5 separate regions of the Homo sapiens genome follow, and all the other regions are linked to region 5. The links come from fine-mapping of genetic effects on gene expression. A gene starts in region 5. Each other region holds a variant in brackets. All regions are shown on one strand. Distances are from middle to middle. Region 1 has its middle 13 kb from the start of TRF-GAA1-5. Region 2 holds the start of TRF-GAA1-5 (tRNA-Phe (anticodon GAA) 1-5). Region 3 has its middle 21 kb from the start of DCT. Region 4 overlaps GPC6 (glypican 6). Region 5 holds the start of DCT (dopachrome tautomerase).

Evidence for each region. PIP is the estimated chance that this variant, and not a neighbour inherited with it, causes the effect. A credible set is the group of variants that fine-mapping cannot tell apart.
Region 1: its variant is the best candidate, but not a certain one, in a credible set for the expression of DCT in tibial nerve (GTEx, PIP 0.60).
Region 2: its variant is the best candidate, but not a certain one, in a credible set for the expression of DCT in thyroid (GTEx, PIP 0.86).
Region 3: its variant is the best candidate, but not a certain one, in a credible set for the expression of DCT in T cells (TOPMed, PIP 0.63).
Region 4: its variant is the best candidate, but not a certain one, in a credible set for the expression of DCT in cerebellum (GTEx, PIP 0.55).

Annotation. Positions count from the first base shown.
Region 1 is chr13:94,534,383-94,539,487 of GRCh38, reverse strand. It overlaps a transcript of DCT not described here. Among named protein-coding and RNA genes, the nearest start is that of TRF-GAA1-5, 13 kb to the left of the region's middle. The variant CTCTG/G (reference allele first, on the strand shown) is at 2,559.
Region 2 is chr13:94,545,295-94,550,399 of GRCh38, reverse strand. It overlaps TRF-GAA1-5 (tRNA-Phe (anticodon GAA) 1-5), which reads left to right and starts at 678; the gene lies at 678-750. LOC124903191 (a long non-coding RNA gene) reads right to left here and starts at 1,652. Exons shown (of 2, transcript XR_007063836.1): 1 at 89-1,652. It also overlaps a transcript of DCT not described here. RefSeq lists enhancers at 140-319, 1-357 and a silencer at 890-1,119. The variant C/G (reference allele first, on the strand shown) is at 3,093.
Region 3 is chr13:94,498,279-94,503,383 of GRCh38, reverse strand. It overlaps a transcript of DCT not described here. Among named protein-coding and RNA genes, the nearest start is that of DCT, 21 kb to the right of the region's middle. The variant C/T (reference allele first, on the strand shown) is at 2,471.
Region 4 is chr13:94,143,047-94,148,151 of GRCh38, reverse strand. The region is part of intron 4 of GPC6 (glypican 6); the gene reads right to left. Among named protein-coding and RNA genes, the nearest start is that of GPC6-AS1, 42 kb to the left of the region's middle. RefSeq lists an enhancer at 3,674-4,607. The variant C/T (reference allele first, on the strand shown) is at 2,090.
Region 5 is chr13:94,476,644-94,481,748 of GRCh38, reverse strand. DCT (dopachrome tautomerase) reads left to right here and starts at 2,067. Exons shown (of 8, transcript NM_001922.5): 1 at 2,067-2,788. The coding sequence starts at 2,494.

The sequences.
Region 1 (5,105 bases), 58 kb before region 5:
CCAGGTGTACAGTAACACAGAAGAAACATTCCTCTTTTAAGCATTTTCTAATAATAGGTTGGTAAATTGCTCATAGAGAAATGCACTCAGATGCCTGTTTATTTCATATCTTATTCCTTTAGCGTCACCTTAATTCCTACTTACCTTTCAAGTTCTCTCAGGTTTTTCCTCTTCATGAAAAGTTTTCCATAGTTTAAGCTAATATCCAGCTCTTCCCACTCTGACCATCCTGAGAGCTTGCCGTCTGCTATGCTCTGGGCATGTGATCCTGTCCCAACTTTCATTCTCTGTGTTGAATGTGTGCTTTCTTCCTCATAGCAAAATTCTACTGCCCCTCAAAAGGTGGGTTTGATTTCAGGAAGAATTTTCATGTTCTAGTAACAAAGCAGGGGACTAAGAATTTTGTGAAAAGTCATAAAAAGTCTATTGGAGTTCTTTGGAAATGCAGGTGTTAATGTGTCGCCTGGTGGTGGTCGGGACTGAAAGATGTTGTGTGACCTGGAATAGCTGGAGGGGTGTGGGCTGATAACCCCTAGAAGCTAGAGTAGTGCTGGGCTCTTAGAACAAAAGGAAAAGGGTAAGGACAACAGGGAGAGCCAAACCGCACAGATAGAAACAGACAAATCCTAAGAGTGAGGGAGGAGAAGCAGCTGAGTAGCTTAGACAGTTTATCTAACATGTTAGGATGGGGAAGCTTCTGAAAATGATCTTCATCCCAGGTAAAGAGAGAAACTGCAACAAGAGAGACTGAATGCAACTTCATTCTTTTTCAATCTGAGGTCTCAGTTGTATTTGTGATGGGCAGTGGACAGCCCATAACCTGAACGAACCTGGCTGAAAAATCCAAGTTCAGGGCTCAACACAACGGTCTATGGTTTATACCCTTGAATTCTTACATTGTAGCAAAGACGGATAATGCACCAAGTCCATCTGCTTTTCTCACTACAATAGATGAAGAAGAGGGGGAGATGTGGTATAAAAGGAGGCAGGGGAGAAGGCTAATACCAAGGTATTGGGGCTATGTGTATACATATGGCTTGGCGGGGAGGGGTGGTGGGAAGCACAGCCTCTGGAGGCAGGCTGCCTGGGCCAGAGCTCCAGGCTCACCCCCTGCCTGTGTAATATCCAGAAGTTCCGTAACTCTTCTTTGTTTCAGTCTCCCTGTCTGTAAAATGGAGAAAAATAAAAATCCTTATTTTATAGGGCTAGTGTGAGAATTAAATAAGATAATCCATGAAGAGTGCTTGGCATGTAGTCAGGCAGGTCCTGCAGGCTCAGTAAGCACTCTCTACAAGCTCCACCCTTCTTTCAGGAGTCACTTTCCGCAACATCTCATCTTGGCTGCCCGAGAAAACTTAGCTGTTTCTTCCATCCTGTACTCCCTATACCTTATCCACACAATAACCTGGATATCATCTTCTGGTTGTGTATTTTATTGGTCTGATTTTCTGACTGGCTGCTATTATCTCCTTAAGGTCAGGATTCACATGACTAGCAGAAAACTCATAGTAGGTGCTCAATGCATTTTTGTTGAATGAGTAAGAGTACTTCTCCTCTTTTTTCATCCTGCCAATGGTGGGTCACCACTGCATCATAATCCTTGGCTGTACTTGTTTTTATTATATTTCCTAACATGAGAATCAACTCTTCTGAGAGCCTACACTGACGTTCTTATTCCTTTTCCACATCTTATGTCACCTAGCCAAGTGCCAGAAACATTTTAGGTTCTCAAGAATTGCTTGTTTACATCTATTGACTTAACAGTAAGCAACTATTTCAGGACTAAAAAGGTTGTATGGTTAATTTAAGGTTATGGATGATTTTCAGTGTTTTCGTTTTTATTTGTTTTTTTTTCTCACTTGCATAATTTGTAGAAAGCAATAAAAAAGGCTCTACATCTTCTTCAACATGGCAGCACAGGAGAGCAGGAAGCTGTAAGTCTTTGTTAGTACTTCAAAAAGATCATGGGATTGTCTTAATCTAACAGAGACAGAGACAAGTTTAGGCAGTTTAGGAACGGCCATCTGCCAGGACACTAACTTGGGTTAATTTAGGTTGTAATCCTATGAACCAGGATCATAGTCACACATTACATGGTTGACATTCAAAAAATGTCTTAGCAACAACAGCATTCTCCCCATCTTTCAAGTTACTAGATGTTCTGACTGCTATTTTTAAATGGAAGGTTTGAAGAACTTTCTAGAGAAATGAGATTTGGGAAACCTTTCAGATGTAACTGAGATTGAGAACTAAAGATTTTGTGTTCAGAGAAATTTAAAGAAACTAACAGTCTGGCACAAATAGATACATGTCCTAATAATGGAAACATTTTACTTGATCCGCCAATTACCAATTCAATTATTCTTACAGGGTTACCAGGTGTGTTAGCTTGTTTTGCATTGCTATAAAGGAACACGTGACACTGGGAAATTTATAAAGAAAATAGATTTATTTGGTTCATGGTTCTGCAGGCTGGGCAAACATGGCACCCACACCTGCTCAGCTTCTGGTGAAGTGTCAGGAAGCTTTTTTGTTTTTGCTTTTGAGGTGGAGTCTCT[CTCTG/G]TTGCCCAGGTTGGAGTGCAGTGGCGCAATCTTGGCTCACTGCAACCTCTGCCTCCTGGGTTCAAGCAATTCTCCTGCCTCAGTCTTCAGAGTAGCTGGGATTACAAGCTCCCACCACTACACCTCCGCTAATTTTTGTATTTTTAATAGAGAAGGGGTTTCACCATGTTGGCCAGGCTGGTCTCGAACTCCTGGCCTCAGGTGATCTACCCATCTCGGCCTCCCAAAGTGCTGGGATTACAAGCGTGAGCCACCGTGCCCAGCCAGGAAGCTTTTATTCATGGCAGAGGGTGACACAGAGGCAGATGTGTCACATAGCGGGAGAGGGAGCAAGAGAGAGGAGGTACCAGACCCTTTTTAACAACCAGCTCTCATGTGAAAACTCATAGACTGAATATTAAATCATGACCATGGGGAGGGCACCAACCCATTCATGAGGGATCCACCCCAAGACCCAAACACCTCCCACCAGGCCCCACCTCCAACACTGGGGATCACATTTAAACATGAGATTTGGAGGGAACAAACATCCAGACTACATCACTAGGTTACACTGGGTTGGTCTTTAGCAGGCATGTTTGGGAGGTCCCCTTTGAAGAGCAGCTTCTTGGAGGCATCACAGGCCCTGGCTGCTCCCAGAACATTACTCTGTCCAATGTCAATGTTAAATCATCAGGTCCAGGCCTTTTGGTACATGGCATCCTTGAGGGTCGGATCTATCAACCCTGGTCCTAAACTGTATCGACCATTGGCTCCTGGTTGCAGCCACATTTCTGAACACAACCTTTTGTCTCCTGGACCTTAAATAAAAGGCTAAATTTTTCTAAATCTGGAAAGATTTTGTCATTTACTGGCTTCTGAGCTAGTTCTTGAGATCATTTGGAAGCACTAGCAAACTTTTCTGTGGTATTAGGGGTTAGGCTATTTCCTGTGAACACCTCTTTAAGATGCTGATGAGGAGCTAGATTGACTTTAGTTAACCATAGAGCCTCTACGGGTGGCAGGAGACATTCTTCCTCGAAGAGGGAAACCTGGGAGGGGCTACGCCATTTACAAGCACCAATATATTAATAGTGTTTTTTTGTGATTCACTGTGCCCTACCAATCTGAGGGTATAGGCGAAATCACAGTACTGGCCATAGCTCAGAATTTTCTGTCTTTGCTCCAACTATTTATTGACGACCTCTGCAATTAGAAAGATGCCCATTTGCACCTGCCCAGGAATGTTGCATGTATTTTCACAAATAAATCTCAGACTGCTAGCATCACAATTGGACCTCTGGTCCACTAGCTTCCCTCATTTCTTGCTTGGCCTCATGGGTTCTGCTATAGTTCCAGGCACTGCCTACATTAATGCTTACAGGGGTGCTGAGTATTGTGCTCTGCATATCTGCATAGGAGAGCTGCTGGTAGCTCTTGAAGCATCCTTATCTGACAGATTTATATGAAAACTATCCTTCAGTTTCTGGCAGAGCCTCATTCCACTGGGCTGGGTGGAGTGACAGATACTATTTCCATGTCATTTCTCCATATTATTGCCCTGATACTTACAGCAATAATGCTTCCTCCTTATTTAGCCAAAGGCCAAACGTTCCTTTGCAATCAACTCATGCAGGTGACTAGTCTTGAACCTCTTCCATCATTTAGTCAAACATGCCATATACCGTGAAACTCTGTGATACATACAACTGAGGACATGTGGACATATAAAATAGTCTGCATGAAAACAGGTATATAGTATATGTTCTAAATTGTATATATTAACAAGCTAAAAACAAATTTCTCAAGTAAGGCCAGATATTTGAACATTCCAGACAGCCTAATCAAGTGGGCTGCAGTCCCTTCAAGTGATGTTTGCAGAATATTTACTCAACATTCATTTGGGCCAGGTGCAGTGGCACTTGCCTGTAATCCCAGATATTTGGGAGGCTGAAGTGGGAGGATAATTTGAACCCAGGAGTTTGAGACCAGCCTGGGCAACTTAGCAAGACCTTGTCTCTAAAACAAACAAACCACATTTATTTGGATGGCATTGGGGAAAGATGGATGTTACGGCTAATAGCAACTCTCAGCTGTGATGTTGGGGAAATTATCTTTTGCCTTCAAATTTTCCTCCTGCATTCAAACAAGAGTGTTTAAGTTAGCTAGACCCACCCTCCCTAGAAGGTACTTTAGTAACTTTCAGATATTGCTTCAGATTGCTCTTTGAAGATCTCACTCCCTGCCCAGGGCAGCCGATGGCAGTAGAGCAGAAACTTGATTTAGCCTGTGCTTTCCATTTTTTCTTTCAAACAAACTGACTTATGATCAGGGTCCACTGAAAGCCTATGGCCACTCTCTAGTATCCCAGCAGGCTTCTGCTCCCAGTAGTTGACTTGTATGCTTGGCCAAAAGCTGCTCTTGTTCCCACACCTGTTTGTGCCAGTTGTACTTATTACTATATGAATGTGAAAAGCAAAAGACAAAGAAATAATTGGTGGTCTAAGAAAATTAAGTTGAATGCCTTGGCAAAACTTAATACAATGAAGTCATCAGCTGAAACA
Region 2 (5,105 bases), 69 kb before region 5:
AGCCTGGCACGTAGTGGGTGCTTCGGAAACATTTGTTGACTCGTGTGGGAAATAGCATTGACTGAATAATCATCGTTAGTGAGCTCACCCAGCATTTATTTGCCAGTCAGGCTCCATGCAAAGAGGTGATGATTAAGGTGGACATTTCCCGGGCCCGGAGCACGGAGAGGCTGCAAACTCCTCTCCAGAGGCCAGTCTGACGATTCCTGCCCCGTACACTCCTTCATCCAATCGTATTGGGCCTACACGGCTCCTCACCTGGGGCCTGGAACTTTTCGGGGAGCAAGGTGACGAATGTGGATAGTCACAGGCAGGGGCAGATCGAAGGGAAGGGGCTACCAGGCCTGGGCAGGAGCTCCCCGAGGCGACCCCGCTGCTTCGGATCTCGCGGGGACCGGCCCTGGGAGGACGGAACCAGCATCCCGAGGAGCCGCCATCGGGGGCCTGGACCCAGCTCCTGGACCGTGCGGGCTGCGCGCGCCGAGAGCAATCTAAGAAAGTAAGGCGCGTGTGCAGCGCCCAGTGGCAGCGTAGAAGGAGGGAGGTGGAAGAATTCCGACGACACCGTTTAACAGGACAAGGAAGAAATGCTGTACATGATCACCAGGAAAAGACAAGCAAGCCAGTTGGACGCAAAGCGCTCAGTGATAGTTTACTCAGGAGACAACCCAGAACGTGCCGAAATAGCTCAGTTGGGAGAGCGTTAGACTGAAGATCTAAAGGTCCCTGGTTCGATCCCGGGTTTCGGCAGCTACTTTTAAATTCTGACCTCAAAAACTCAAATTTTGTAAGACTCTCCGTCCACGATACCCTGGCCCATTCCTTCAAGCCCAAGCAAAAACTGAGATTTGAAGGGTGAAGGAGGAAATGAAACAGTCGTTCCTAACCACCCCCAGGAGCGAGGCCGCGCCGCATAGCCCTTCTGGGCCGTCTCCTGGCGGGGCTAGAAGAAGCTGCCGCGCGTGCGCGCCACGGAGCCTGGTGCTGGGACCCAGAGGCACCCTCGGCGCCGGAAGACGCGAACGACCCGGGCCGCGGTGGCGAGACGGGGCCGCGCGCCGCCTGGGGGGCTGGTGTGAGACCCGAGGCTCCGATGGGAGGAGGTCTGGTCTGTCCACGGGGCCAGCAAAACACCTTCATCCCAATTTCATCGCATTCCTTCTAAGTATCCGAATTTGAAGAAAAAGCAAAACTGTTGAGTGGTCAGATGGCCCCCACCTGGCGTTGCCGGTGAGCGGAACCCAGTGCTGGTTATTTCTGGCTAGAGGCGCACCGAGGCCGGCCCTGGGTCTGGCCCTGGGGTGGCGCCACCAGGTTACTTGCCCACCGGTGAAGGATGGCAGCTTTACAGCTCCCCGACGCATCAGACTAAAGAACGTTGGCCAGGGTCTGCACCGGTGGTTCTCAAAGTACAGTCCCCAGATCCGCAGCATCAGCACCGCCTGAGAACTACTTAGAAATGCACATTCTCGGCCCTGGATAGGCAGCTCTGGCAGTGGGGCCTAGCAGCGGGTGTTTAAACAAGCCACGGGTCTAGACGTTCCTTTCTGTTTCTAAAAGAGGCCTTGCTTTCCTAAGACAGTTGCTGTGAACCAGCTTTTTCCTTTTGCTGTCTTGCCCCTGCAAGTGTGAAATAGAACTTTGACCCGTGCTCGAAATTACTTTCTGAGATTTTTTTTTGTTTTCACGTGTGGGTGGACGTGGGTACTCAGGGGCATCAGCTTCCCAGCTACCTGTGGGAGCCCACCCCAAGGCCAAACTGGGTGTCCTAGAAAGAAAATGGAGGCCCAGGCACCTGATGTTATCTTGTATGGCTGGTGGGAACTGAGCCAGGACCCAAGGGGAGAAGTTGCAGGGATGTAGATCTAAATTTTAAAAATAAGAAATATCTATCTATTTGTGTCGTAGGAAAATAGAATAGTCAGTTTAGTGAGGTGGCGGGTTGCTGGACAGCAGATGAAGGACCATTGTGAGATGTATGCTTAGGTCTTGCTTGTTTTCTGGTTCTGCTGTTTTGAGGGGGAAGGGAAACTCATATTTATGAACTACTGTGTGTTCTCTCTTATTCATTCATTCTCTAATTGGACATTAATTCCTAACCTCCCACTACGAGCCAGCATTATTTGCTCTTCATAACAACCTTATGAAGTACATATTATTATCCCCATTTTATACATAACAGCCTTTCCAGGGTTGCAAGAATTAAGCATAAGCTATGTCTGTTAGACAGCTAACATTGCTACCTCCTAAATGTTACTGTAAGTGAAAAGCTGTTGAGATGTGTAGTCAAGACAGGTGTGCATAAACATACAGGTACTTGTATGAGGGAAATAAAAGTTTTTGTCTGGCTCACCAGAAAAGGCTCTATGGAGCAGTGGGTCCTCACCCAGAGAAGATATATATATATATATATATTTTTTTTTTTTTTTTTTTTTTTGAGACGGAGTTTCACTCTGACGCCCAGGCTGGAGTGCAGTGGTGTCCCAGGTTCAAGGGAGTGTCCTGCCTCAGCCTCTCGAGTTGCTGGGATTACAGGCACCCGCCACCATGCCCGGCTAATTTCTGCATTTTTTGTAGAGATGGGTTTTTGCTATGTTGGCCAGGCTGGTCTTGAACTTCTGACCTCAAGTAATCCACCCGCCTTGGCCTCCCAAAGTGCTGGGATTACAGGCATGAGCTAGTGTGCCCAGCCAAGATTTCTTAGGTATGGAAAGATTTAACAGGAGTGCCACCAGCTATCACATTTCTAAAGAGTAGGGAAAGGATGCAGGTTCTGGGGTGATAGTGACTTTCATTTCAGACAACCTGAGGTCTGAGCACTCTGCCCAAGGTAATGTTAGTGATGGTGAATCTATGCGGGTCTGCAGCAACCTCAATTCTTGCCTCCTCAGAAGAAAGAATTCGACTGAAGGGCATAAGGCAGAGTGAGAGATGAACACAAGTTTTACAGCGGGAGTGAAAGTTTTTAAAAAGTTTAGAGCAGGGTCAGGCACGGTGGCTCATGCCTGTAATCCCAGCACTTTGGCAGGCCGAGGTGGGCGGATCACTTGAGGTCAGAAGTTTGAGACCAGCCTGGCCAACATGGTGAAACC[C/G]CATCTCTACTAAAAATACAAAAATGAGCTGGGCGTGGTGGTACAAGCCTGTAATCCCAGCTACTCGGGAGGCTGAGGCAGGAGAATCCGTTGAACAGGGGAGGTGGAAGTTGCAGTGAGCTGAGATTATGCCACTGCGCTCCAGCCTGGGCAACAGAGTGAGACTGTCTCTTAAAAAAAAAAAGTTTAGAAGCAGGAATGAAAGGAAGTAAAGTACACTTGGAAGAGGGCTAAGCGGGCAAATTGAGAGATCAAGAGCCCTGTTTGACCTCTGACTTAGGGTTTTATACACTGGCATTTCTGGGGTCTTGCATCCCTTCTTCCCTAGTTCTTCCCTTGGGGTGGGCTGTCGCATGCACAGTGGCCTGCTAGTGCTTGGGAGGGAAGCATGCACAGTGTGTTTACTGGCGTTGTACCCATGCTCACTTGAGGCATTCTTCCTTTACCAGCTGAATGTTCCTAGAAGGTCATGTACCAGTTAAATGCTGCCATTTTGCCTCTTAGTGCGCATGCTTCAGCTTACTCGCCCAACTCCTAAGATCTTATCAGGAAACTGATGATGACCAGTTTCAGGTTTTTTCTGTTTGGAGCCTGCCTTTCCCTAGGGCTGGCTGCGACCAATTACCGTTTTAGGGAAACAGTGTAACAACCACTTGCCCACCACCTGTTGGTCTCCTGACATTCCTTGGTGGGGAGGGGGGCTCTCCTGCTGTGCTCATGCCTGACTAGCTCCCTACTGTAACAGGAAGACCAGCTACTGGCTATTGGTGTGGGTGGGGGAAGGATGGAGGCGCACACCTGGTTAGTACCAAAGATAAACCAGACACTAGGTAACGTGGTAAGGACAGATGGTAATCATAATGTACTATTGCAATAGGGAAGAGGGTCCAGCGTGAACTGAACTTTGATTTGTACAGAGGTGACTGGGCATTTTAAGGGACAATGAGGGATTAACGGAGAGGAACCAGTGGGGCTTCAGCAGAGTCAGGAAGGTGAAAACTGACAAAGGATTGACGCATGTAAATGCTGATTAGGCAGCTGTGTCTGCTAGCTGGCAATGATCAAAGTCTGGATTCTGTCCTTCCAGAGACTGGGAGACACTGGCCCTATCCTTCCTGATGATTACATTGTAAAGGAATGGTTTTTTACGTCCTTGATTGCCTTTGTAGGAGATACACAGCCATCTCAAAGGCACAGAGGAAGGAGTCACAATTGTAAGCCCTTTTTAGTAAGTACTCTAAGAAAGTGCCAGAAGCCTTTCATCAGATGGTGCATAGAATTCTTTTGTCAGTCTTGGGCTTTCTCAAGCAGGCACTCTGAGGGGGTTGAGGCCTGGTCTAGAAGGGGGCTCAGAGAGGCCTGGCTAGCATTTGGTCAAGGAGAAAATCTGTGTCATTAGAAGTGTGAGGAGGGGAGGGTGAAGGGGAAGAGTTAGGCCAGGCCTCCACCTGTTGGTTGAGAAGGCTTTTCAGGTCTTGTGACAGGGAGGAGTGATCGGGAAGCAGGTGGGCAGCATTAAAAAAATACACACACCGCTTATATATATGAAATGAAGGAAGACCACCATGTGAGAAAGCAAAGGCTGTTTATTCAGAGCTTGCTATAGCGAGGGAGTCAGCCACCATCACTGGCATTTGGGAGAGACTCAAAGGCAGGCAGGGGAGTGGGAGAGCTTTACAGCAGACACAAGGGACAGCTTCAGGTGTGCCCTGATTGGAGGCTGTTGGTCTGGGAAGCTGGAGTTAGCTAACTGGGAGCCGGCAGCCATGTGATTATTTAAGGCGCCTTTTGTGGTTGGCCTAAAGTTGGAAATGAGGACAAAAACTAGGAAAGCTGTCAGTTATTAATCAATTCCTGGTCATTTGGAATTAATTATTATAAAAGTTATTGTTTAGCTTCTCAGATTGTTATTTCCCAGACTTCTTGCAAGTCTGGCTTTAGCAGACGGGCTTGCTGGACTGTTTATTGTAGATAAGGGGCTGGTTTCCTGGGCAGGTTATGGTCACAGTTCTG
Region 3 (5,105 bases), 22 kb before region 5:
CTTTTTTTGAAATGGGGTCTCTGTCACCCTAGCTGCAGTGCAGTGGCGTGATCTTGGCTCACTGCAGCCTCGACCTCCCAGGCTCAGGCAATCCTCCTACCTCAGCTTCCTGAGTAGCTGGGACTACAGGCATGCACCACCATGCCCAGCTAATTTTTTGTATTTTTAGTAGAGATGGGGTTTTTGCTATGTTTCCCAGGCTGGCGTTGAACTCCTGGACTCAAGCAATCCATGCCCCCTTGGCCTCCCAAAGTGCTGGGATTATAGGCATGAGCCACCGCACCCAACCTAACTGTATTTTCAAAGACTTTATTTCCAAATAAAGTGACATTCACAGGTCCCAGGGCTTAGGTCTCGAGCACATCATTTTGGCAGACATTATTTAAACCACCACGGTGTTTCTAACAATATTTTATAACCCACCTCTTTACTAGTTAAACCAGGTTTTCCTTGCAATGAGCCTGACTTGGGAAGCCTCACTGAGTCACAGAAAGGTGGGGACCTGGGGTGGCAGGCTCACAGTGGCTGGAAGTCAGAGGATTTGTCTGCATGAGCAGATGTGGTCTGGAGATACAGATTTCGGAGAGAGTGCAGCGAGGAGAGGAAAGGACAGCCACACGTTGAAGGGCTAGTAGACGAGAAAGATTTATAAAGATGACTGAGGAAAATGAAGAAAAAAAGGAGGACACAAGGAGAATGAGGTACCTAGAAGCTGAGGGAAAGGGGTGAACCAAGAAAGGAGAGGAGGGGGTCAGAAAGCTACAAAGAGGCCAAGCAAGCGAAGGACTGGCCAGATGCCTGCTGGGTGTAATCACAAGTTCACCAGCTCCTCGCAGCTGAGTGTTGAGGGCTGATGACTGAACGCAGGTGCAATAGTTAAGGATTAAATGGAAAAAGAGCAGGTGGAGGCTGGGAGCTCAGGCCACTCTCCCAAAGAGTCTGGCAGGGAAAGTAAGCCGAGAACTATGGCAATACCTGCTGGAGGAAGGTCCGTGTCCTTCCCCACCACAGAATCAACTGGAAATGGCAGAGGCAACAGAAGAACATGATGGTGAGAGAAAGGGGCAAAATTCATGGGATGAGGGGGACAGCAGGGAGGGCTATGGAACAGTGAAGGCACCCTCAGCAGAGCCTCAGAAGTGGGGGCTGGGGCTATGGAACAGTGAAGGCACCCTCAGCAGAGCCTCAGAAGTAGGGGCTGGGGCTATGGAACAGTGAAGGCACCCTCAGCAGAGCCTCAGAAGTGGGGGCTGGGGCTATGGAACAGTGAAGGCACCCTCAGCAGAGCCTCAGAAGTAGGGGCTGGGGCTATGGAACAGTGAAGGCACCCTCAGCAGAGCCTCAGAAGTGGGGGCTGGGGCTATGGAACAGTGAAGGCACCCTCAGCAGAGCCTCAGAAGTAGGGGCTGAGGCTATGGAAACAGTGGGAGACCCAGCAAGGGCAGAGTGAGGGAGACAATAATACCTACAAGATAGCGAACTTTGGGCTGCCTTCAGCTTCCTTAAGCTGAAACATGAGGACTTTCCTGACATGGTCTCTGCTCAATCTGCAGCCTTGTCCCTCATGAACTCTTCCCTTCTTGCACCTAGTGCGCCACATTGTGATGATTTGGCTTTTGTAATGCTGTGCCCTCTGCTTGGGACACCCTCCCTCACTCTCGCAGGTTTGGTGGTCTTGCCAGGAGTTTCTGCAAGCCTGTTCTCATTCTCTCTCTCTCCTCTCTCTCCTTTCTCTCTCTCTCTCTCTCTGTCTCTGTCTTTGTCTCTGCATAAGTACCGTGACTGCAAGATCCATGGCTGTCTTCTTCCCCATCCTTGTGAGCCTGGTGCCTAGTGCAGGGCCAGGCATACAGTAGGTGCTTAATAAACATTTGTTCAAGGAATAAGTCAAAAAGGAAGGAAAGTAGAAAGGAGGAACAGATGGTGACTAGAAAGGACAACTTACTTTTTATGTACTAGAGGCACTAACTTCTTTAATTTTTCCGACAGCCTGATCAGAGAGAGGTATTATGAACACCATCCACTTTTTATAAACAATGAAAATAAATGCTCAGAGAGATGAACATTTCCAAATTCTTTTATTTATTTTTAATTAATTAATTTATTTATTTATTTGAGACGGAGTCTTGCTCTGTCACCCAGGCTGGAGTGCAGTGGTGCGATCTCCGTTCACTGCAAGCTCCGCCTCCCGGGTTCACGCCATTCTCCTGCCTCAGCCTCCTGAGTAGCTGGGACTGCAGGTGCCCGCCACCACGCCCAGCTAATTTTTTTTTGTATTTTTAGTAGAGATGGGGTTTCACCATGTTAGCCAGGATGGTCTCTATCTGCTGACCTCGTGATCTGCCCGCCTCAGCCTCCCAAAGTGCCAAATTCTTTTAAAATCTATAAAAGAACAATTATTTAGAAAAAAAAGAAACTAAAAATCACTGTGTGAGGATGGCAGTGGTAGAAAAGTCTGGAAGGATCGTCA[C/T]CAAATGTTAATGGGGTTGTCACAGAGTGGTGCATTGTGCTATTCTGCTTTTGTTCCGTTTGCCTATCTGAATGATTTTTTAAAATGAAAATATATTTACAAAGTGAAGAGCAATGTTTACTGCAGCATTATTCTAATAGCCAAGAAAAGGAAACAAGCTAAGTGTCCATAAACGGTTGAATGGACAAAGAAAATGTGGTACACAATGGGATATTATTCATCCTTAAAAGCAAGGAGATTCTGTCATTTGCAACAGGATGGATGACTCTGGATGACATTATGCTAAGTGAGATAAGCCAGGCATAGACAGACAAAATCTGCATGATCTCACTTATATATGGGTTCTAAAAACATCAAACTCTTAGAAGCAGAGAGCAGAATGGTAGTGATATGGTTTGGTTGTATCCCCACCCAAATCTCATTTTGAATTATAGCTCCCATAATTCCCACATGTTGTGGGAGGGACCAGGTGGGAGATAATTGAATCATGGGAGTGGTTTCTCCCATACTGTTTTCATGGTAGTGAATAAGTCTCACGAGATTTGATGATTTTCTAAGGGGCTCCCCCTGTTGTTGGCTCTCATTTTCTCTCTTGCCTGCTGCCATGATTGTGAGGCCTCCCCAGCCACGTGGAACTGTGAGTCCATTAAACCTCTTTTTCTTTATAAATTACCCAGTCTCGGCTATGTCTTTGTTGGCAGCATGAGAACAGACTAATACAGGTTGTTGTCAGGGATGGGAAGTGAGGGAAATGGGGAGATGTTGATGAAAGGGTAAAAGCTTCAGATGTGTAGGATGAATAAGCTCTGGAGATCTAGTGTATAGCCCGGTGACTATACTTAACTATACTCTATTGTATACTTGAAATTTGCCCAAAGAATAGATCTTAATTGTTCTCTCACACACAAAAAAGGTAACTATATGTTATGGATATGTTAATTAGCTTGATTATCATTTCACAACATATAGGTATATTAAAACTTCCTATTGTATGCCTTAAATATATACAATATTTGTTTGTCAGTTATAACCTCAATAAAGCTGAGGAGAAGAGGGAAGGCCAGCTGTGCTTTCGGTTAGAGCATGGTGGGGGTTCAGCCCTCTCCTATGGAGAGAGTGAAGGGCTGGAACACAGGGTTGGCCAGAGTCATGAGGGGAGGTCAGTTTAATATTCTCCATGGCTTGGACTTGAGGCTAGCTCTGGGAGTCAAATCATTCCTAACTTATTGATTCCAGTGTAAAACTGAAATGGTGTCTAGGCCACCGATGGTGCACTTTGCTTATTTGTTCATTAAGAACTAGAGGTGTTTTGTATGTTTAAAATTAGGCCATCTAATTCATGCTGCCAGGTTTGCTTTTGAACATCCTGAAGAGAAAATTATTCTTTTATACTGCCATCAACAGCCACTGCTTGGTGCTTTGGAGAGAACGCACACACACACACACACTCACTCTCATGCACACTCCTTTGGTCCTTTTATTGCTTTGGGAATGGGAGCATATATCTTTATGCTTTTAGTCTTCTTTATGCTAAATATTTATGCCAAGTTTTAATCAGGAAGCTAAATGTGTGTCTGGAATTGGTTCCTTCTGGTGGGTTCTTGGTCTCACTGCCTTCAAAAATGAAGCCGCAGACCTTCACGGTGAGTGTTACAGCTCTTAAAGATGGTGTGTCTGGAGTTTCTTCCTTCTGGTGGGTTTGTGGTCTCGCTGACTTCAAGAATGAAGCTGCAGACCTCTGCAGCCAGTGTTACAGCTCTTACAGGTGGTTTGGACCCAAAGAGTGAGCAACAGCAAGATTTATTGTGAAAAGCGAAAGAACAAAGCTTCCACAGTGTGGAAGGGGACCCGAATGGGGTGCCACTGCTGGCTGGGGTGGCCAGCTTTTATTCCCTTATTTGGCCCCACCCACTTCCTGCTGATTGGTCCATTTTACAGAGTGCTGATTGGTCCATTTTACAGAGTGCTGACTGGCGCATTTACAATCCTTTAGCTGGACACAGAGCAATGATTGGTGTGTTTTTACAGAGTGCTGACTGGTGCATTTACAATCCTTTAGCTAGACATAGAGCAATGATTGGTGTGTTTTTACAGAGTGCTGATTGATACATTTACAATCCTTTAGCTAGACACAGAGCACTGATTGGTGCATTTACAATCCTCTAGCTAGACAGAAAAGTTCTCCAAGTCCCCACTCGACCCAGGAAGTCCAGTTGGCTTCACCTCTCAAATGTACACAGCTCCTGTCATAGTTCAGGCTGCTGTAACAAATTACTGTAAACTGGGTGGCTTCAACAACAAGTGTTGATTTCTCACAGTTCTGTCTGGAAGCTGGAAGTTGAGTTTAGTGTGCTAGCTGGGTCAGGTTCCTGGTGAAGGCCCTCTTCCTGGTTTATAGAGGAAAGCTCTCTCTGGCCTTTTCTTATTAGGGCACTAACCCCATTCATGAGGGCTCCACCCTTGTGACCTTATCATTTCCCAAAGGCTCCACCTCCTAATGCTATCCCATTGGGATTAGGGCATCAGTATGAATCTGGAGCAGGGAGAGGGGATGCAAATATTCAGTCCATAACAGCTCCTAAAGATTTTCTGCTCAGCTCTAATTTATTTGTTCACTTCTTTGACAATTTTAACT
Region 4 (5,105 bases), 330 kb after region 5:
GAGAAAAGCAAGTATTGAAATGGTTGGACACATGGGTAAGGACCACTAATCTCCTCTGAGAGATTGCTGGGCTCCAGCAGGGTAGCTGGCAATATATATACACACACCATTAATTATTTGCTGGAATATTTTCTGTGACATTGGTCTCAAGGTGCTCTGCTCAAATACTCTACCTCAGCAGAATCCCTGCCACAGAGTACTTGAGTAAAATAACTTTACATCAAACTGGATTCTCTTTGGCTCTGACCACATGACCAGGTTTCATGGGTCCACTTTTTTTCCTATATCTTATATAACTTTTATGATAAATGAGTACAATTCCAGTGATCTACAAGAATGTTATGAGTAAAAATGTGGAGCATGTATTCACTTAGAACACATGTGGAAGGGCTCTTTAATGTAGTGTTGTCTATGCCTCCCAGCTTACAGATGAGACAACCAGAGTTCTGGAATAAATGACTTGCCCAGGGTCACAGAGCCAGGGCCTCAGGGTAAGTGATCTGATCTTTGGTCCAGTGTCAGTTCAGTGTGCCACACTTTTTACACTAAACCAGAAGGAAGAGGCATTGGTTAATCATGATAACAACAACAGTTTATGCTTATTTTAAGTTTGGTAAGCATGGTATATGCATCATCTTACTCAACCTTCAAAACAATGCTACAACTCATACTTTATTTATGAGAAAATGGAGGCTTAGAGCATTGAGATAACTTGCTAAAGCTCATTCAGCTAGTGAGTGGTAGCCCTGAGATTTGACCCAGGCTATAGAGCCTAACATCCTGTAATGATGATGCCAAGCTGAAATTATCAAGCAAGGTGTTTGGAGTACCCGTATATGCATCTAACAGAGGTGACAGGAAAAGCAAAATCTTTCTATGTGCAAAGAATTAAGAAAATAAGGAGAGTTGAGATAGGAAAGACAGAATCAGGAGATAGGAAAATGAAGGACTTAAGAGGCTAAGAGGGGGAAATTATTTTTTGACCTGCAAATGATCTTTATAATCACTTCAATTTTCTAGTTTATTTTAGTCAGGGTCATCTGGCATTGGTCATTCTGTATTTTAAATTTAGTAGTACCCACAATTCTCAATATTCACTTTTAAAGCATACACTGATTTTAGGAAATCCAAGGTAATAACCTGCCTTTAGTGGGAGTGAAATGAACATTAGAAGCAGATTTCAAGAACAAATGAAAAATTCCCTTGCAGTATTTTATTGCTTTTCTGTTAACAGTGGAAATATATAAACCTATTTCTTTATTCAGCAAATTCAAACATGCATTGCTAGAATGTAATGTTAAAATAATTATCAACGCTCATTTTATCCCCAAGTTATCTAAATGCTTTCGGATCTGGTCAATCACATAATTAATATATTTCTAAGAAATTGCCTTTTGGTATCACTTTTGATATACAACAACTGGTATGGGACTTTCCATCTGCAAAGTGTTATATGATCTCTCTTTTTAAATCTTGTGAGGTATGTCATCAAGGAGTTGATTTATGATCCTGGTTCAGTAACCTTGGACATGTCTCTATCTTGCACATTATTGATAAAATGATTCAATGTTTGCAACCTGAGATTTGAAAAACACTGCTATCTGGAAACCTGAAAAAGATTGTTTTTGAACGCTATAATTGGTCCAAGGATGAAAAAAGACAGGCATTTTTCATAAGTTCAATTTTGCCATAGTCCCAAGTTGGTAAAAGGTATTAATAATAATTGTTGAAGGTAAATTATCTTCTCAAGGTCTGGAGATAAATACTTGATTGGTGAGACTGTCCTAGATAGTAAATTACAACTGTGTCTAGAGGAAGTCACACAACTTGTTTTTTTTTCTTTTATTTTCTATTTTTAATATAGTGGTTGGTGGGTGTAAGTCAATTCAGAACAACATATATTGCACATCTACAATGCACCAGGCACCCTGCTGAGTGTTCAGGATACAAAGGTGGATAACATGAAGACTCCACCTTCAAGGATCTCACAGTATCAAAGGTGAAAATAGCATGTGACATGATTATGGATCACACTGCGAGCTTCCACAAAGCAGAAATATCAGAAAACATGCATTCTTGCATAAGTTTA[C/T]GCAGTTTTGAATGAATGTCATTGGTTACTTGCTCATTTAAATTATTCATCTGATCCTTTTATGAGCATTTAATAAGTTCTAAATAAAATCTTAGCTCAGACTTCTTTCATTGCAGACACAGAGAAGTCCATTTGATCCTCCTGTCACCTGTCCAGTTGCAGCTTAATACTGATTTTCTCTACCCAAACCTCCAGATTGGGTTAGTTGCTTCATGCTTCATGTTCACTCAACCTTTTGTTTATACATTCACCATAACACATGTTCCCTTCTGTTAAATTACATATTCACTTATTTATAAGTATGACTCCTTTAATCAGTATCTCCTAGAGCTTAGGGTCCGCTCATCTTTGAATTCCCCCATACTTGGAAAAGTTCACACATTTATGGGAACACGTCATAACAGTTTACTGAATTAATGAGTAAGTTACTTAATGTAGAATCATCTGGACATAACTTCTCATATATACAAAGCTTACACTTCTCATGCTACCATTTTTTTTCTTTTTCAACTTTTATTTTAGATTCTGGGGGTACACATATGAGACTTTAAGCAAATCAGTTAATCTCTTTGGTTTTTAATTCCCAAACAAATATCAATATATTGAAGTAGCTAGGCTATATGACTGCTGACATTCCTACTTATTCTAAAATAAAATTATTTGGACACTTTACCATTGGCCTATTGGAAAAGGCCTAATGGATAAGGATATAATTTGACCCTAAATTGATAAGTTTCAATAAAGTCAAAACATTATACTAATGTAAAAAATAATGACAACAAATGCAATAATGAGTCTTACCATGTAGAAGGTGCTTTATATAGAATGTTAGGTAAATGGCCAAGTATAGATTTTAATATATTTTATCCATCCATCCATTCATCATCCGTCCATCCATCCATCCATCCATCCATCCATCCATCCACCCATCCATCCAGTCATTTAATAAATATTTGTTGAGTGTTTGCTAGGTGCTAGGCATTGCTCTAGGCAGTAAGCAAGAAAAAATAAAATCTAGGACTCCTAAAGAACTTACTCTCTAATCAATATTTCAAACTCTGTGCTTTTGCCCATAAGCAATAAGGTCTCCAAAGTTTTGTTAATAACTTTAGTAATATAAATATTTGATTCCCCTGTTTAACTAGGGCCTGGTTCCTAAAGATTTTCATTATATAAATTTAAATGTATAAAATTTTTCATAAAAGCAGGTATTCTAATGCTCTGCTCCATATTTTAAGAACTGCTAAAATTCTTTATTCTTATTCCAGGCAGTAAGAATATTAACTTCAGTTGGGCATTATCTTTCTATCCTCAAAGATCACTCTGAATTACACCAAATTAAATAGATTTAGGAATAAAAGAACAAATTATCTATTTTTGTTTGCATGTCAGGAACAGGTATTTTAGACAAGTCTTTGTAAAATAAAAGTATATCCTTTAGTTAAACTAGTGTTTGCACACAGATATCCCTCTCTCTCTCTGTCTTATACACACACACACACACACACACACACATACACACACACTCCCAAAGAATGATCTTTTCCTACAAAGGAACTAAGAACTGAACAGATAAGCTTGGAATTATTAGTCTTGAAAAATGGGTGTTCCATTTCTGGTGTGTGTGTGTGTGTGTGTGTGTGTGTGTGTGTGTGTGTTTTAAAAGCACCTAAGAGGCAAAGAGTAGAGGCCAGGTTGTACGAATGGACAGCAGCCATCATGGACCATTCATGGAAGTAAATCCACACTGCGTATATTTTGGGGTCATGAATTGGAAAAAGATAATGACTGTTCACTCTTTTATTAAAAAACAATATGGTCTCCATTTCAACCCTGATGTTACAGACCCTGCCCTCTGTGGTTACAGGTACTTGCTTGCTGCTGGGTGACTCTCAGTCTTTTTCTTACATATGCAAATAGGACAACAGCGCTATTAAAAAAGAGTGTGCGACAGAGGCTGGATACTTTTGTAATGATAATGCAATCCTGTCTCCTTCAGGAAACGTCTTCTTTTCACCATTAGGACAAAATCAAACGTTTAACAACTTCGCTTCAGTGAAAACAAAATATGCGCCTATAAAGCTATAATGTGTTGAAACCACGTGACAATCGCTGATGTCCAGATCAAGTTAGCCTTACTTTCAATTGCTATAATTTTATTTATTTATTAATTTTTGAGAAGATCTCACTGTCACCCAGGCTGGAGTGTAGTGGAGTGATCATGGCTAACTGCAGCCTGGACTTCCCAGGCTCAGAATTGCTCAAGCAATTCTCCCATCTTAGCCTCCCAGGTAGCTGGGACTACAGGTGCACGCCTGGCTAATTTTTGTATTTTTTTGTAAAGATGGGGTTTTGCCATGTTGCCCAGTCTCATTTCAAACTTGTGGGCTCAAACGATCCACCCACCTTGGCCTCCAAAGTGCAGGGATTATAGGCATGAGCCACTGTGCCCAGCTGCTATCCCTTTATACTCTCTTTCAGGCTGGAATGGGAACCACATAAATGGCATCTTTCTGCATTTTCTGATTTCATAATACAAAGTTAATAATCAGGTATCTGAGAAGAATGTCATGATTCTAAAGAGTGACAAAAAATTTAATATGATTTTTGACTATCATATTAAAAATCTAGATTCTAGAAATCAAATACTTTGGAAAGATAACACTGCCTATATAGAAATACTCTCTGTCAAAACCTTCAAATAAGTCTGAATTAAAACTGAAATAAAACCTATGAATGATTCTCTCACACTAAACCATTTCTCTTTTTGCTGGTAATAAAAAGTCCAACGAAAAATAACACAGCTAAACTTCCTACAAAGTACTACAAAGGGAGACAATCTCACCTAATCTTGAAAATAAACTAATGAGAAATATTAATTATATTTTGTTGTTTTTATATATCTTTTTTTTTTTCATTAAAAGGTAGCCAGCCATCTGGCTGGGCATGGTGGCTCACGTCTGTAATCCCAGCACTTTGGGAGGCCGAGGCAGGCGGATCATGAGGTCAAGAGATC
Region 5 (5,105 bases):
TAGAGAGGTCCAGTAGGAAGTTAGATAATATGAGTCTGGGGCTCACAACTGAGGTCAAAGTCAGAGTTGTAATTTTGGAAAGTCATGATAGCCTGCATTTAAGGCCTCAGACTAGCTGAGTTATCTAGCAAGTGTGGAAATGAAAGAAAAGAGATCCTAGGACTTCGACCTGGGGCATTCTGACATAAGAATTATTGACTCCATCAGTTTTAACATCCAAGAAATTTTATCTTAACATTTATGGAGCCCCAAGGCTTCACAAAAACCTGGAATAAAATTCCCAAGTGTCACAATGCTGGCATGAAGTGGCAGTCAATAAATATACATGGAATGAATGAATGAGCTCCAAAATAAAGGTTTCAAAAACCCCTGAGATTTTGCGATTTTAGAACCCCAAGTTTCTTCCCACCCATGATGTGTTAGGTTGAATGGTGACTTCCCCAAAAGATATGTCCATGTCTCAGAACCTGTGAATGTGACTTTGTCTGGAAAAAAGAGTCTTCTTTGCAGATGTAATTGAGTGAAGAATCTTGAGATGAGATCATCCTGGATTATCTGAGTGGGCTCTACATCCAATAAGTGTCCTTATAAGAAACAGACATGGAGGAAAAACACAGACAGATGGGGAGAAGGCCATGGGGCTGTGGCAGACATTGGAGCTGCGGTTTCAAGCCAAGGATTGACAGCAGCTGCCAGAAGCTTGAAAAGGCAAGGAGGATTCTAGCCTAGAGTCTCCAGGGAGAGTGCAGCCGCCTGGCTGACACACGCCAGTCCTGCCAACACCTTCATTTTAGACTTCTGGCCTTCAGAACAGTGAGAAAATAGATTTCTGTTGTTTTCAGTCATCCAGTTTGTGGTCATTTGTTACAGAAGCCTCAGGAAACTATTGCACATGGTCTCTTTTAGCTGATGCTGATGCAATATTTCCTTTGGAGCTCTGCTGTATTCTGATTCAGTGATTCTCAACTCTGGCTGAGCATTAGAATTGCCTAGATGTTTTCTAACAAAGGTTGGTTGGTGTCTGGAACATCCTCAGAGATTCTGATTCAGTAGGGCTGTGGTACAGGCTGATATTGGTGTAGAGTCAGACATAAGAATTGCCATTTAATTAGTCACAACAACTTAACATCAAGGGGTGGCACAGAGGTACAGGGGGTGGGAATACCTATATAATTGTTTCACCTTAGGAATTTGCTTTGAAACATAACAATATGTGTCTTTACATTCAAGTATATTCTTAGAAACTAGCTGAAGCCGTTTCGCATCCTTGTGGCACTAAGTCCTGTTTCCACTGTGAAACAGTTACCAAGACAGTCCTGTTTCCACTGTGAAAAAATAAATGGATGTTCTGACAGGTGGCCACCATTGCTGACCTGACCATTCTCCAGAAGCACCAGGAGGCATTGCTTTCTAGACTGAAGCTCAGTCATGCTTCACTTTAGTCTAATCAAAAAGATTTGCTTGCAAGCCTTCATTCCAAATGGTTCCAGTGCCTTCCATACAATCAGATAATGACAATTGTGAGTTTCTGGTGGCATGCTACTTCATGTAATTAAAAAAAAATTGCTGCGTAGATGTGCTGAATAGGAGAAGAGTAAGTTATTATTTGGAGGGAAGAGGATTCCCAATTGTGGAACAAAGCAATTCCTTGTACCCTGGTTCTACATAAATGTTTCTTTATTTTTGAAGTTGCATGACCCCCTGTTGTGGTCTTTTTTGCACACATGTCAGAAAGCAGCCATGAGTGCATTGTAGTTGGCAATGTGAGCTTCTGTGTAAAGGGTCTTTGACGAAGAGCTCACTGCATCTACTGACTCCCCAGGATGTCTGAGGTCACAAGTTTGGCTGGAGCACATGAGCCCAGATAAAGAAGATGGTTTTGCCCTCCTGAAATAAAGCCAGAAGTGATCTCCTTTATTGTGCACTTTGGGTCATGTGCTAATGATGAGGGTTTCTGTAATACTAATCCCCCTAATGAAGGCTTCTCCCAGCCCTTACACAAGCCCCCAAGGCCCCGTGGCTTGGCAAGCCAGAGAGAATAAAAGCAGCACGGTGTTTGGCTTTTGAACTGAGTTCAAGGCAATTAAAGTCAAGAGCTAAGGAGGGAGGGAGAGGGTTTAGAAATACCAGCATAATAAGTAGTATGACTGGGTGCTCTGTAAATTAACTCAATTAGACAAAGCCTGACTTAACGGGGGAAGATGGTGAGAAGCGCTACCCTCATTAAATTTGGTTGTTAGAGGCGCTTCTAAGGAAATTAAGTCTGTTAGTTGTTTGAATCACATAAAATTGTGTGTGCACGTTCATGTACACATGTGCACACATGTAACCTCTGTGATTCTTGTGGGTATTTTTTTAAGAAGAAAGGAATAGAAAGCAAAGAAAAATAAAAAATACTGAAAAGAAAAGACTGAAAGAGTAGAAGATAAGGAGAAAAGTACGACAGAGACAAGGAAAGTAAGAGAGAGAGAGAGCTCTCCCAATTATAAAGCCATGAGCCCCCTTTGGTGGGGGTTTCTGCTCAGTTGCTTGGGCTGCAAAATCCTGCCAGGAGCCCAGGGTCAGTTCCCCCGAGTCTGCATGACGGTGGACAGCCTAGTGAACAAGGAGTGCTGCCCACGCCTGGGTGCAGAGTCGGCCAATGTCTGTGGCTCTCAGCAAGGCCGGGGGCAGTGCACAGAGGTGCGAGCCGACACAAGGCCCTGGAGTGGTCCCTACATCCTACGAAACCAGGATGACCGTGAGCTGTGGCCAAGAAAATTCTTCCACCGGACCTGCAAGTGCACAGGTGAGGCCCATGCTCCAAGCTTGGTGGGGAGGGCCAGAGCTGGGGAAAGAGCTCCTTCTAAGGAAGAGATGAGACTCTTGACAGAGACTCTTAGATTAGGCTTTGAAAGGCAAACCAATGATGGTTTTGGTCGGAAGCATATTCAATAAGGCTGATGTGCTGGTTTATTCTTCACACCCTCTAGTACATCTAGTTATGAAGACTAAATAAATATGGCGTGGGCCAAGCCTGCTTATATGAATGCATGCCAACATACTATTGGCTTGTTTGTTGGAAGGGGAATTTAAGAGCTTAAAAGCGTCAGCTTTGAAACTCGGAGCAAGTCCTTTCAAGATGGATTCGGTGCCCTCTCCTGAAATGGGTTTGCACTTGTTGAAAAGGGATGGGTGAAGCTTGGCATTCGGAAGACAGGAGTCAAAGGCAGGTGTTCTGGTCTCAGCATTTCTCATGATTTGAACAGATCTCTCTCTCTCTCTTTTTTTTGGAGATGGAGTCTCGCTTTGTCACCGTGGCTGGAGTGCAATGGTGCTATCTCAGCTCACTGCAACCTCCATCTCCCGGGTTCAAGTGATTCTCCTGCCTCAGCCTCCCAAGTAGCTGGGATTACAGGCACCCGCCATCATGCCTGGCTAATTTTTGTATTTCGAGACGGGGTTTCACCATGTTGGCCAAGCTGGTCCCGAACTCCTGACCTCAGCAGGGTGCATGTTTCTCATTAAAGCTTATGACCAGGTTGTAACTTTGACAAAATTGTCGAGACGTGGCAAGACAGAGCTTTCTCGAGGAGCTGGGGGTGGGGGGGGCGGGCGGGGGGTTGTTATTAGATAACAATGGCTTTTTGTCACTCTTCTCTGGACTTGAACCGGACATCACAAAATTTGCTCAGTGTCCTTCCTTTAGACTCTGGTCTCTCTCATTACCTGTTGCTTTGACATCTCTGTGCATTTCTCATTCCTCTAGCTCTTTGGGGCTTTTTCAAATCCTCTTCAATCTTTCCCACCTCCAGTTTCCAGCAGCCATATGCCCTTCGGGAATAAACACTCAAAGCCTGGCAGGGGGCCACTGAAATACAAAAAACACAAGTGGCAACCTCAGGAAAGCCCTTGGACACTGTTGTAGGCTGGGTGGTTGCAGAAGACTTTTTCCTTTTAAAAATACTTTTTACTTCTCTTCTCATAGGATGCTGGAACATAGGAGGATATAGGTCATTGAGCTTCATAAGGGGTTGAATAGGTATTACTAAGGGAACATACAAAGGCCTGTGATGTTGGTGTAGGAATGACATTCGATTTTTTTTTTTAATTTTAACTTTCAACTTTATTTTAGATCCTGGGGATACAAGTGCAGGTTTGTGACATAGATATATTGCACAGTGCTAGGGTTTGAGATATGATTGATCCTGTCACCCAGGTAGTGTGCGAAGCACCCAGTGGGTAGTTTTTCAACCTTTGACCCCTCCCTCCCTCCCCTCTCTAGCAGTCCCCAGTGCCTATTGTTGCCATCTTTATGTCCATGAGTGCCCAGACATTAGATTTCTTTTTTCACATTAAGAGTTCTGGCTTTAGGCCTGGTGCAGTGGCTCACGCCTGTAATCCCAGCACTTTGGAAGGCTGAAGTGGGTGGGTCACTTTGAGGTCAGGAGTTTGAGACCAGCCTGGCCAACATGGTGAAACCTTGTCTCTACTAAAAATACAAAAATTATCTGGGTGTGGTGGCAGGCACCTGTAATCCCAGCTACTCTGGGGGCTGAGACAGGAGAATCTCTTGAACCCAGGAGGCAGAGGTTGCAGTGAGCAGAAATCACACCACTGCACTCCAGCCTGGGTGACAGAGTGAGATCTGTCTCAAAAAAATAAATAAATAAATAAATAGTTCTGGCTTTATAATCATTTTGTAGTAATATTTTTAATTCTGTCATTCAGAAGAATATCTAGGTCCTGGTTTTGCCCTGGGTATTAATCATGACAAAAATTTCAATAACATATTGGATATATATTATCCAGCTTTTCTAAGTTTTTTAAGCATTTGCTTCTATAGACCTTCTCTCAAAATTATCATGGTGTTTTAGACGAATGAGGAGCAGGTTGCTGGTGTGGTTAGCGTGATTGAAAACCACACTAACACAGTAACTTCTTTGTTCAAAACCCCAAAATACTTCTAGAACAATTATTTCTATGTCAATCAATGAAAAAGTGCTGGCCAAGCGCAGTGGCTCACGCCTTTGGGAGCCAAGCACTTTGGGAGGCCAAGACGGGTCAGGAGTTCAACACCAGCCTAGCCAACATGGTGAAACCCTGTCTCTACTAAAAATACAAAA